2 separate regions of the Homo sapiens genome follow, and region 2 is linked to region 1. A link means that fine-mapping ties the variant in region 1 to the expression of a gene that starts in the linked region. Tissue or cell type: naive CD4 T cells. Region 1 holds a variant in brackets; the other region holds the start of a gene. All regions are shown on one strand. Distances are from middle to middle.

Region 1 (5,573 bases):
GAGGAGTCCCCAGACTCTCAGCCCACAGTGGGGGTGAGGGGGGAGGGTCCTCCACCACCAGGTCCCTAACTCTTGTCTGGACCGCCAGTCACACACCAGCTTGTACCGCCCCTCGCTCTGTGGTGTTAACTCATATTAATGTTTGCCTGCACAGATGTTTGTCTCCTACCGCATCCCACAAAGAAGCTTTTACCAAGACTGTGTCATATGCATTTTTGTTCCCTCTCAGGCCTGGGCAGTCAGCAGGCACACGCATCCTTCTGATGATTTAAACATCATCAGACCAGACCCGGGTCTCCGTGCCCACTGCGCCCCCAGTGGAGACCGTGTGGTGCACAGCGGTTCTGTGCTGGGCAGTCGGTGCACCTTGGCATCCCCACCTGACGCCAGGCACCAGGCCAATACTGCCCTGCGCCGCACACCTAAGGAAAAGATGTTCTCACCCGAAGTACTTCAAAAGCTGACTGGACGAGGTCCACGTCTCTGCTTTTCCAGATCACCTGGTTCCCCATGAGAACGTGCCAGGCCAGCATGCGGAAAGAAGGGGCACCCAGGACCTAAACAAGAGAGTGCAGTGCTTTCAGCGTGACTAGTAGAAATGGTTTTTCTCTCCCTTCCCATGAAGTTATTTGTGTGTTCATAAAACTTTGTAGAGCAAAGACAGGGCTCAGGAGAAAGACACTTATCTTCTCAGGGAGGCGGGTGCCCGGCCCAGGGTTAAAGGGGCAGAGAGAGAAGTTCCAGGTTTGCACATAAATGCTAGATTCCAAAGCTCTTGCTCCAAGATCTTTCTCCCAGTTTTGTTTTTAAAAATTTGAAGCAAAAAGATGTTAACTTTGTGCAATATTCACCTTCTCTCTACAGACACTTTCTGCTGAACCATTTGAAAGCAAGCTGTAGGGCCCTCGACATGGCAGCACCCAGGAGAATAAGGGCATCTCCACAGCTGAGACCATGACTGCAGCCAGGAGTGCCTGGACGGACGCATCTGACATCCAGCCGTGTGCACAAGCCCAGGGCTGCTGCCTGCTTGACGGCTGCTGTTCTTTGGATCCAGGAGATACTACAGGACCCATCATGGCTTTTAGTTGTCACGTCCTTATTCTTTAACCTAGAACAGCCTCTCCCCACACCCCACCTGTTATTAACTTCCATGACATTGACACCTTAGGAGAGTCCAGCCTGCTGTCTCACGGCTTCTAAGAAGCCAAACCCAGCTTTGAAACACAACATAAGAGAGAGGCCACAATACTATGTCTCACCAAACCCCAACAGCCTCAAAGTAGTCCCACCTCCAGAGGAATTCCAGACCCCTTCCAACCTTCATCAACATAAGCAACGGACAAGGAAGGTTTCAGCCAAATGCAGGATTTTGATGGAATGGGTGTTTACATCCAGAAGCCCCAAGGACATCTGCCATGAAATCAGTCTCACTCCATTTTCAAAAACAAATAACTCTCTTCTAATGAATCAGTGCTCATTGGAAAAATTCATGCAGAAGAATTTTATAAGAAGGCAGCCTGCCCTTGTAATCCAGCAACCCACACCCCTCTCTCCCGGCATCTGACTCGATGTAACTGGAGACAACACTGTTAGATTTTGTCGTGTCTGGCAGGCACACATGTACATACATCACCCTGAACACACAGTGCCTGCTTTATTTCTTCTAATTAATCATATTCCATGGTTTGGCTACTGTTTACTAGTATGGTTTGATATGCAAGTTGTTCCTAATTTTTTGTAAGAATGACCATCACTTTCTTTTTTTTTTTTTTTTTGAGATGGAGTCTCGCTCTGTCACCAGTCTGGAGTGCAGTGGTGCCATCTTGGCTCACTGTTAACCTCCACCTCCCAGGTTCAAGCGATTCTCCTGCCTCAGCCTCCAAGTAGCTGGGACTACAGGCACATGCCACCATGCCCAGCTAATTTTTGTATTAATAGAGATGGGGTTTCACCATGTTGGCCAGGCTGGTCTCGAACTCCTGACCTCGTGATCCGCTCCCCCTTGGCCTCCCAAAGTGCTGGGATTACAGGTGAGAGCCACCACGCCCAGCCAGACCATCACTTACAATGGGCAGGGTCCAGGCTGCATCCAAACCAATTACAGTGCTGTTCAATGCCTTTAGGAGCTTCTTAGAGGATTAGAGGACCATGGGATGCCAACTATCTGGGCTTTTCTTTGAAGATACTTAGGTCATCACTGAAAGGGGAGCACTGATCCTATGGCTAATACCCCCAACGCCCTGTGCCCTCAGCCACCCACCGAGGAGGCTGTCAGTCACTTCCTGCAGGGTTTTGAAGGTGGAGGGTCCAGAGGCAAGGCGTGTGGGCAGGGACAGCCCATGACTGGCTCTCCTCCTGAGCTCCTGATGCGCTGTGCCCCTGCCGCCTACCTGCCTCATGTGCCGGAGGGACTTGAAGACTGGCAGCTTCCGGGGCTGCCAGCTCCCACAGCCTGAGAGAGAGGAGGACTCTGCCGGGCCCTGGGTCAGCTCCCGCCCTTCTGTACTCTCTGGCAACACAGGGGCTTTCTCCTCCTCTTCAGCCTCAGAGTTGTCCCAGCTTTCTGATTCCTCTTCTAAATCTGCAAGACAGATGACAAGGACAGTTACAGATACAAACAGTCTCATCCTGTGACTTCAGCCCAAGATACTTCATGGGCTGAGCCGGTCAGTGTAGATTCCTGGCTGCGGCCAGGTCCTATGCTCCCTGCTCCCTGTTGCTCTGGGAGCCCTGGGGTGGGAGGGAGGGCTCAGTTGCTGTCTACTTAGCCCGGGGTACCACACATCTCTCTTAGAAGCACTTATGGAAAGACCGTCAGCTGTTCTCTGCTGGTGAGAAAACTCAAATCAGTAAGAAAAATGCCAACAGCGTGTCTACGGAACACACCCAGTCGGCCACAGTTCTCGAGGATCTACACGTTGTTTCTTTTTTTTCCA[CT/C]TTTTTTTTTTTTTTTTTTTTTGAGACGGAGTCTCACTCTGTCGCACAGGCTGGAGTGCAGTGGCGCAATCTCGGCTCACTGCAACCTCCGCCTCCTGGGTTCAAGCGATTCTTCTGCCCCAGCCTCCCAAGTAGCTGGGACTACAGGCACCTGCCACCATGTCCGGCTAACTTTTTTTGGTATTTTTAGTAGAGACGGGGTTTCACCGTTATCTGCCAGGCTGGTCTCAAACTCCTGACCTCATGATCCCCCGACCTCGGCCTCCCGGTCCACTTTTGTTTTAGCTTGAGGGCGTACGTGTGCGGCTTTGTTACAAGGGTATGCTGCGTGGTGCTAAAGTTTGGGCTTCTATGAATCCTGTCACCCAGACAGTGAACCACAGGAAGTAATATGCCCAGATAGTATCCAATAGAAAGCATTTCAGCCCTTCCTCCCCTTCCTCCCTCCCTCCCTCCTTCTGGAGCCCCCAGTGTCTACTATTCCCATCTTTTTTATTTGAGACAGTGTCTCGCTCTGTTGCCCAGGCTGGAATGCAGTGGCACGATCACGGCTTACTGCAGCCTCAATCTTCTGGGCTCAAGTGATCCTCCCAACGAAGCCTTCCAAGTAGTGGGACTACAGGCATGCGCCACCACGCCCAGCTACTTTTCATATTTTTTGTAGAGACTGGACCTCCCTATGTTGCTCAGGCTGGTCTCAAACTCCTGAGCTCAAGCAATCCACCTGTCTCGGTCTCCCAAGAGCTGGGATTCCAGGCGTGCACCAGTGCCTGACTTCGTTCTTTATGGCTACATCCAACATCATTTCATTTAGTCCTCTCAGCTGTTCTGAGGTCAGCACTATTATCTCCATTTCACAGATGAAGAAATTAGTATTTGTCATTTCAACGAAACTTCATGGAGCCCTCACAAATGACAACATCTCCATTTCACATCACGAGACCCAAAGGGAAGGGTGCACGTCAGAAGCAAATCCAGGATGCGAAGCCAGGTCTGTCTGATGCCAAAGGGCAAGCCCTGAGCCCGAAACCCCATACTGCGCATGCCCAGCACACCTGCGTTTCCAGCTCTCACAAAGGCTTCGACAGACCTGGCTCTTCGTGCTAAAAAGCTCACCAAGACACTGCCCTTGCCATCTGCACCTGCCTAGAAACATGATTAGCACTATAATAAATGGCTCCAGGGCCAGCCAACCTGCAGGGCATGGGGGTGGATTCCCAGGCTTTGTCTTTCCTGACCAGGTTTTGCTCTTGCTGAGACTCCATTGGCAAAGCTTATTTGAGGGCACGCCTGCACCTGCCTGCAGAAACACCTCGAAACAGCTCTGGCTGTTTGGAAGGCTGGTCATTTGCAAGCAGAAGCATGGGAAGCATTATTAATGACATGTGGTGTGGAACAATGGTCGTACCACAGACCTGTAGCACCAAGATCAAATCATCCCTGATGGAAAGCTTGGCCAAGACTGGCCCAGTGCTTCCAGGCTGGTGCACACAGTGCCACGATCCCCAAACACAGGGCCCCAAGCCCCAGATCAGGAACCTGGGGAAGCCCAGGCACCTGGGAGGTCAGGGAACCACTGCCCTTCATGGAAAACTTGGGACGAACTGAAACAGAACACTTTATTTGTAAAGGAGCAAAGACCGTCGACCAGGCCAAGCACTTGGCTATCACAAAATCGGGACGAGAAGCCTTTAATCAGCCAGTTCTCTCTACAGACAGCCCACCTGTGAATTTTCCCCACCTAGCTGGGGAACAGATTCTTTCACATGGCGGTCAAGGCAAACGAGACAGGAAATCACAACAATCACAACAATCACACCGAGATCGGAGGGTGAGCTTCCCGAAGGCTCGTTCTGGGCTGATTCAGAGCCGCGTTTCCCTCCCTCAGCGATTCCTGCCAGGAGAGCAGACAGCTGGTACCGCCCCACGGCCATCCGGGCCAAGGCCCCGGCAACAGCACCCCTGCCTCACCAGCGAGCTTCTCCATCTGGACCAAGGTATCCTCGGTCGGAGCACCTTCCAGGAGCTTCTCGGTCAGCCGGCTGCCACACGCCTTCAGGAGCCTGGAGAACACAGCACCAGCTATGAGCGTTCTCGCCAAAGGAAAAAGCAAACCTGACGCTCACCCAGCCCCTGATCCTACCAGTTTAAAGAAAAAATGGGTATAAAAGAACACCAGCAGGGCACAACCAGCCAGATCCCGCATGCAGGCAGTTCCACAAGTCAACGACCAAGGTCCTTCAATAGATGGATGGGAGGAACTTGGAGGGGAGGGGATGCAAGGGGGAGCTGTTCTAAACCAGAGAGACTTGGGGCGCTGCTCCGATGCCAATGCAGTCACTTGTGAGACAAAAGGTAAACTGCACAAGGGCTTGCAGCCTGGAGAACACTCAGGAGTCTGTCCGTTTTGTCGGACATGATCACAGTATTGTGATTATATTTATGGCTGGAATGATACGACTCAGATTTGCTTTAAAAAAAAAAAAAAAGGCTGGGCGCGGTGGCTCACACCTGTAATCCCAGCACTCTGGGAGGCTGAGGCAGGTGGATCACATGAGGTCAGGAGTTTGAGAACAGCCTGGCCAACATGGTGAAACCCCGTCTCTACCAAAAATAAAAAAATTAGCTGGGTG
Region 2 (8,069 bases), 180 kb before region 1:
GAAACCTGTAGCATTCACACATTCCTCCAGATGAATTTTATTATCAATGATTAGCAGAAAAAGGGCGAGATGAGAGCCCAGCTCTCAGGTGTGGAGAACTGCTTGGCAGTTTCCCATCAGGTTAAACATTCACTTCCCAAAACTTAGCCATCCCTAGTCTTGGGTATTCCCAATAGAAATAAGTGCTTGGCCGGGCGCGGTGGCTCATGCCTGTAATCCCAGCACTTTGGGAGGCCGAGGCAGGCAGATCACGAGGTCAGGAGATCGAGACCATCCTCACACAGTGAAACCCCGTCTCTACTAAAAAAATACAAAAAAAATTAGCCGGGCGTGATGGCGAGTGCCTGTAGTCCCAGCTACTCAGAAGGCTGAGGCAGGAGAATGGCCTGAACCCAGGAGGCGGAGCTTGCAGTGAGCCAAGATCGTGCCACTGCACTCCAGCCTGGGCGAAAGAGCGAGACTCCATCTCAAACAAAAAAAAAAAAAAAAAAGAAAGAAGTGCTTATGTCCACCAAAGACAAGCACGAAGATACTCGTAGCATTATTCATAATGGCCCCAAACTGGAAACATCCTGAATGTCTATCCACGGGAACATGGACAGATAAATTGTAGTATTTCCACACAAGGGACTACCAGGCAGCAATGAAAAAGAATGAAGTACTGATATATACAGTAGCCGTGTGGATTGAATTTCACAGGCATACTGTTGAATGAGAAGAGCCAGGCATAGCTCGCAGCGGATTCCACTCATCTATGGTGATGGAGATCAAAATAGTGGTTACCTCTGGGTATCTGTGTGTAAATTCTGCTCCCTAACAGGACACAGGGAAAACTTCCCAGGATGGCAGTCAGAGCCACAAATCAAGACTTACCTGCATTTGGGGCTCACCTGAGCGGCCTTTTCTTGCTTGCTTGCTTATTTGCTTTTTTGAGATAAACAATATACATTGAGGTGTACACAATGCAGTGAAAAAAGCATACAGCCCAGTGAATCTTTACATGTTTACACTGAGTATTGAACTTCATGCAAAGTGCTGTTCTAGGCCCCTGGAAAGGGAAGCCAAGGTTATGAGACACAGACTGTGTCGGTATGGATTTCATAATCTGGTGGAGGAGATATTACAATACAAGGTGGAACGATGACTTTTCATCCATTCACCCATGGGGTGTTTTTCTTGTTTGTTTTGTTTTTTGAGACAGAGTCTCACTCTGTCGCCCAGGCTGGAGTGCAGTGGCACGATCTCGGCTCACTGCAAGCTCCGCCTCCCGGGTTCATGCCATTATCCTGCCTCAGCCTCCCTAGTAGCTGGGACTACAGGCGCCTGCCACCAAGCCTGGCTAATTTTTTGTATATTTAGTAGAGACAGGGTTTCACTGTGTTAGCCAGGATGGTCTCGAACTCCTGATCTCATGATCCGCCCGCCTCGGCCTCCCAAAGTGCTGGGACTACAGGTGTGAGCCACTGCACCCCCATGGGGTGTTTTTGAGCCCCTGCTCTATGCCAGGCACTGAACTAGACAGGGGAAATGGAGTAGCAACCAAGACCCCACTCTACCGTGAGGGTTTTGGAGAGGAGCGCAACTAATTGATTCTACCTCCTAAACATTTTCCAAATTCATTCCCTTGCCTCCCACTGACCCTATCCTAGTCAGGCTGCTACCCTCTCTCCTCTGCAGCTCTCTCAGTCCTTGCCCCTGATTCATTCTCCAGATCAGCAGCCCTTACCTAAGTGCTCAGCCGAAAAAAATTCAAAATTGATGACTGCCCCTGGCCCAGGCAGCTCCGGTGCTGGCCTGTGTGGGCTCAAATCTTCACTTGTAGGATCTATAATTGTGACCACAGGCAAGTTCCTGATATGTCCTGAGCCTCGTGTGTGTCTTCTATAAAATGGAGATGAAATAGTATTAACAACAAAAACCATACCTGTCTCCCTGAAGAGGCTAGGCTTGCACCATCCACTACTCCTCCCAGTGCCTCTCAATGCTGGTCACTCCTGCCTCTCTGAACTACCCAGTGATAGAAAGCTGCTTCTGTTCATGAACACACCCTTTGGTTTCAAGGCCTGAGACTCTATAATTGGTGCCCCAGTTTGACGTGTCTTTCCCTTCACCTTCTCTGGCTGGGTCTTACTCAGCTCCAGACTCGGCCTAGGCATTGCCTCCTCCAGGAGCCTTCCCTGAAGCTGCCTACGGGGCTGGGTGCCCCTGTGTGGGCCCCCACAACACCCCGGATTGAACTTCTCTGTCTCCTGTTTCTGTTTGTCTCCACTTGCTTGAGTGTGGGCTCCTGCCGGGCAGGCTGCCTCTGAGTTGCTGAATGAAACTCTTCTTTGCGCCCCTACTGTGGACCCCTCCAGTCCAGTGCAGGTGCTGGATGTGCCTACTGACCTGAGCAGAACATGCTGAGCACTTTAAGGGAGGTGGCCTTGAGGAATGGGCAGGACATCAAGAAAGAAAATATATATATATATATATATATATATGTATGTATATATATATTTTTAAACAAGTTGTACATGCAGACAATACTAAATTCAGCAGAAACAAAAGGGATTGCAATGAAAATTAAAAGTAGGTCACCTCTCAACCACCCAGCTCCCCTCCCCAGTGGCCACCTCTTCTATCAGTTTCTGAGTATTCTCTGCAGGGCAGAATTGTCAGTCTTCCGTCCCTTTTTTATTTTGCAAAAATTTAAAGCAACAGAAAAGTTGCAAGAATAGTACAATAAGGCCGGGCGCGGTGGCTCACGCCTGTAATCCCAGCACTTTGGGAGGCCGAGGCGGGCGGATCACGAGGTCAGGAGATCGAGACCATCCCGGCTAAAACGGTGAAACCCCGTCTCTACTAAAAATACAAAAAATTAGCCGGGCGTAGTGGCGGGCGCCTGTAGTCCCAGCTACTCGGGAGGCTGAGGCAGGAGAATGGTGTGAACCCGGGAGGCGGAGCTTGCAGTGAGCCGAGATCCCGCCACTGCACTCCAGCCTGGGCGACAGAGCGAGACTCCGTCTCAAAAAAAAAAAAAAAAAAAAAAAAAAAAAAGAATAGTACAATAAACACCTTTTGCCTAGATTCACCAATTAACATTATGCTACTTAACAAGCATTATATCATTTAATGTTCACATTAATTAATTAATGCCAATTTTGTACATGAGGTCACTGAGGCACCAGGCAGGTTAAGGGACTTGCCCGAGGCCACAGAGCTCCTGCCTGGTGGAGCTGGGCTTTCCCCCTTAGGCTGCCAAAGGACTTTGATCTGCCTTCCCACAGCTCCCTTTTGAGGAAAAGCATTTTCTTACACTAAGTTGAAATCCACCTCCCTGGGATATTTACCAGATGATCCGTGGAAAAGTACACAGCTCTGGAAGCATTTGCTACTTCTCCTCCTAAAACCTCCTCCATTCCCTGAGCGACAGCTGCTGTGGCTGCCACTACCACATGCTCCAATGTCACCTCCTCCGTGAAGGCTGGGTTAGCTCACCCCCCTGTTTAAAGACTCACCATGACTCCCAGCTGCCAGTGGGATGACATGTGCACGCCTGGGCTTGGAATACAAGGCCTGGGTGATAGAGCCCTCTTCCAATCCCTCTTGCTCCTTCTTCCCCTATCTCCACTTCCAGCCACACTCAACCCTCTCACTGTCCACTTAAACTTCCCCTCCTCCTTGAAGCCACCCGAATTTTTCTAAAGAGCGCATTTCTCCCCTCTCTGGGCTCCTGCAACCTTCTGCCTGAGCCTTTGACAGCCTTTTCCAGGTTGTCTTTTGGCCAGGAGGCTGGACAATGGAGGACGGGAGTGACAGCTCGGCCCCTTCCTAGCAGAGTGATCCTACACAAATTACTCCAGGTGTCTGACCCTTCATTTCCTCAAGCACATCATGGGGGAAAGAATGCCTAGCTCAGCACCTGGCAGAGAGTCAGCCTTCGCTCATCTCCCCTAATGGAGCTGACAGCTCTTCAAGTCCGCTGACATCTTCTCTTAGTCATCCCTTGAAATACTACCCGCTGTTACTTCTCTGCTCCTCAGTCTCCTCCTATGTAAAATGGGGATGAGAAAGGAGAGGTTGCGAACCTTTAATGAGCGAGCCCTTGGAGTATCCAGCCCTTCCCGACGCTAACTGACTCCTACGAGGGGGCCTGGTACACAGTAGGTGCTAAACTAATCCTCTCCGAGCTGGGCTTGGGGAAGATGCCTCCGTTGGGTGTACAGCGTGGGCGCGGGAAGGCGAGCCTGGGAGCGAGGGGGTTGCAGAGAGGCAGCCTGAGGTCGGCTCCGCCTTCCCCCGCATCCCCCGCCCGGGCCCTGCAGCTGTCAGCCCGGCCGGCCTCGGCGCCAGTCCACCAAACCTGAACGTCCCATGCCGGCGCCCCCACCTTCCCGGCCTGCACAACTTACCTTGCGCTCGGCGGCCCTCGGTCCCGCCCCCGACTGCCATTGGCCCAGAGGTTCCTTTGTTAGCGAGAGCGCGCCAACCCCATTGGCCGGTGGGGCTGCCGATCGCGTCGGGCGCGGCCCCGCCCCGTACGCCCCGGCACCTCCCCGCGCCCGGCCGCCCGCCCGCCCGCCCGCCCGCCCGCCCCCGTAGTGCGTGAGGCGCTCCGGTCCCATTTGCAGCGGCCGCGGGGCGCCGAGGGCAGCTGCGGCGGCGCGGACGAGCCGGGACGGCGGCGACCGGAGCCTGAGAGGCGGGCCGCAGCGGGAAGCAGCGGGCCCGAGGCCGCGTCCATGGGCCCGCGGCGGCCGGGCGGCGGCGGTGCGGGCGGGAGCTGGGCGTCGCGCGCGCTGTGAGGCCCGGGCGGCTCAGGAGCCTCGGCGCGTGCAGCGAACCGCCCGCCGGGAAGGAGGCCGGGCCGGGCCTGCGGCGGGGCCGGCGAGGGATGCGGCGCGGCCGCGCTGAGCCCCTAGCCCGCCGGGAGCGCCAGGCCGGCCAGGCCTGCGCCGCCGCCGCCGCCGCCGTCGCCGCCGCGCCGACCATGTCGGCAGCCAAGGAGAACCCGTGCAGGAAATTCCAGGCCAACATCTTCAACAAGAGCAAGTGTCAGAACTGCTTCAAGCCCCGCGAGTCGCATCTGCTCAACGACGAGGACCTGACGCAGGTGAGCGACTGGGGCCGGCCCGGACACCTCCGTTCTGGGAGCCGCGGGTCGGCGGCCGGGGCGCCGCCAAGGGCTGCAGGGAAAATAAAAATGGAGCAGGGAAATGCGCGAGTCCTGGGGCATGGGGACGGGGACGGGAAGTGCATTGACAGAGCTGGGACAAAGGGAAAATCCTCGAGTATGCCGAAAAATAACATCCTTTCCCGTTCCCATTGCCCGGCTGTGTGATTCATGCTTTTTGGGTGACTCAAAAGTGCCTGGTTTCGCTTAGTAGGAACAAAGCGCTTAGGGATTGCATGCCGCTTGACGGGACCCCCCTGAGATTCTGGCTTGGGACTGGACTTGGATTTGTCCAGCCAGAGTGGCCCAGGGGTCGGATTGTTGGGGAGGACTGTGGGCTTCCGTCTAGTGGGACGCAGCCTGCCCCGATTCTGAATCATCGTCACTGTCAAGCACTGGAGAGAGGTGAAGGGGTGTCCAAATCTGGCGAGGAGGGTCTTGTTCTTGAACTTAGTTTGGCAGGCCGTAGTTTAGCGGGGAGCTGGGACCAGTTCCCTGGTCACTGGCCGAGGGGTGAGGAGACCTGTGGGTCCTCGGGAAAGTTGATTTCTGTCTCCCAGCCTTAACTGTCAAACAGGGCTTTGAACTAGTTATGACTCCCAAACGTGCATTAGAGTCATAGCCATTAAACACAGAGTTCTGGGGCCCCCGCCCTGGAGTGACTGGGGAGATGGGGAATTTGTATTGATGAAAGGCTCCAAGAGGCTTGGCTGCAGCCCCCATGGCCCTTGGGAACCCCTGCAGTGATTGCTGTTTGAACTCCTAGTGTTCCAGGATTCCGAGCCTTGTGTGCACCTCCTTGGGATGTGCCTCGGTACCCTCCCCACGGCCATCATCTCCATCCTCTTCAGAGCTTTCTCTCAGCCTCCTGAATGAAGCCAGGGGAAGTCCCTTCACATTCCAGTCCAGTGTGACCTAGTTGTAGCCACTCCTGTCGCAGAAGAACCCCTTAGACTGAAAACGAGTGAACGGGCCTGGTTGTTTTTAATGCCACTTCAGTGCACCCAGGGTTTGACTTGTTTACATGGCCGACTGGAGTAGGGTGGTGGGGCAGGGGTTACGGCCTGGGGCACGGGGCCTTTCTCTGAGGTCAGGTTTCCAACTGCCAGGAAAAGATTCCTTTCATCTAAACCCCAAAAGCTTAACGAAACACTCAAGGCTGCAAAGTCATAGATGGTTAAGATACCAAGGGTTTTAAGGACGGTCAGCTTGGGACGGATAGAACTCATTTACCTCGGAGGGTGTTTTGGAGTGTAAAGGAGAACTTGATTCCTTCTTCTCATCTGGATGCTTTTTTGGATGAAACAGTTTATGCGATGAGGAGTTGTTAGGAGACTTTGCTTCAGGTCTTGGCTGTCACTTCCAGCTGTGTGACCTTGAACAAATCCCTTTACTTCTGTATCTTTTAATTTCCTTATCTGTAAATTGGGAATCCTGGTCCCTGGCTTACCTCCTTCACTGAGCATTTGTGAAAAGCAAGAAATGATATTTTATGAAACTTTTTTCTCTTACAATTTAACAAACCAAAAAAACCTGCCACTTTAAGAAGTTTCTGGGCAAGGGTTGTTCTGAGAGAGGTTTGTAAGTTTCCTGGTTATTCTAAGCAACTGTCAAAATTGGTAAATTTACACCTCATAGGGGCTGTTTTCGAATTCTTAAGCTTAGATAAACTAGGATGGAATCTGCATGTTTGAGTCCAATCTGCTAAGATTTTTTTTAATCTGTTGATTATTAATTGGATTCACGGGGAGAGGCAAACTTAAAATACTGTACTCTCACTGTATTCAAAGTTGAATTGTGGGTTTTGAAACAGGCCTGAGACCTTCAGGGCACAACTGGAATGGTAGTTTCTGAAATAATGAGTGGGGTTATTTGTGCTGGGAGAGGTTAGCCCAGCATTCTACCTCCTGGGATCTTTCAGGAAGAAACTGCTCTTGAAAAGAGAGGAGGGAGACTCAGGGCTGTTGCCAACAGCCTTCTCTGCTGCTCTCTGCATCCGGCCCTCCCTCTCACTCTCATCCTTATGGCTCCATTAGAAAACCTCAACCAATCGGTTCCCATCAGTCTCCCCCAAGCCCCTGCTTCCTGCTGCCCCTCCCAGCCTGGAGCTTATTTTAGACCGTCAAAGCTGGAAGATACATCAGCCACCATCGAGGCCACTCCCTCCTTAAGAGGAGAGGATACTGGGCCCAGGGAGGTGGTGGGCAGCCTTGGCCGGCTTTTGCTCTGGAGATGTCATCTTCCCAGGAGCAGACATTTCTCTGAGCCTTTTGGTTTGAGGTTTATTTCCTCAGCTGTGGGTTTTGTTTGTTTGTTTTTCCCCTAGAGAGGCACAGAAACCTCTTGCAGGGACTGTATTATGGCATCAGACCTGGAAGGGACTTGGAGATCAGCTAATGTAACCACTTCCTCTTACCGGTGAGAAGATTGAAACCCAGAGAAGGGAAGTGACTTGCCCAGTTCAGGGATGGAGCCAGGATTCTGAAGCCAATGTTAGTTCCCCTACTCCTGTTCAGGGTCTACAGTGGCCACACCATGAGCACATGATGAGGACAATAATGTCAGGGATAGTTATGTTGCAGGAGGTGCCTTGAGAATGCTGGCTTGGAGCAGTGGAGTTCTTTGCCTTTTCCTCCTCACGGAAATTTGGAGTAATCTGGGATAAGTGATAAGTGACCGTCCTTTATTACTTGTTCCAGGCCCCTGTTCACAGAGTGTCATTTATCCTCCAGTTTTCCTGTGCATTTCTCAGCGACATACGGACCCAAATATACAGTTTTTTTTTTTTTTTTGAGGCGGAGTCTCGCTCTGTTGCCCAGGCTGGTGTGCAGTGGCGCGATCTGAGCTCACTGCAAGCTACGCCTCCCAGGTTCATGCCATTCTTCTGCCTCAGCCTCCCGAGTAGCTGGGACTA

What was found. PIP is the estimated chance that this variant, and not a neighbour inherited with it, causes the effect.
Region 2: it holds the start of MPRIP, and the variant in region 1 is fine-mapped to the expression of MPRIP in naive CD4 T cells (Schmiedel 2018, PIP 0.95).

Annotation. Positions count from the first base shown.
Region 1 is chr17:17,216,626-17,222,198 of GRCh38, forward strand. FLCN (folliculin) reads right to left here. Exons shown (of 14, transcript NM_144997.7): 8 at 4,912-5,003; 9 at 2,394-2,584; 10 at 444-557. Among named protein-coding and RNA genes, the nearest start is that of PLD6, 13 kb to the left of the region's middle. The variant CT/C (reference allele first, on the strand shown) is at 2,940.
Region 2 is chr17:17,037,877-17,045,945 of GRCh38, forward strand. MPRIP (myosin phosphatase Rho interacting protein) reads left to right here and starts at 4,581. Exons shown (of 24, transcript NM_001364716.4): 1 at 4,581-5,095. The coding sequence starts at 4,973. It overlaps LOC124903938 (a long non-coding RNA gene), which reads right to left and starts at 4,449. Exons shown (of 3, transcript XR_007065644.1): 1 at 4,395-4,449; 2 at 3,905-4,032; 3 at 1,467-1,881. RefSeq lists silencers at 4,146-4,605, 6,279-6,573 and an enhancer at 5,268-6,467.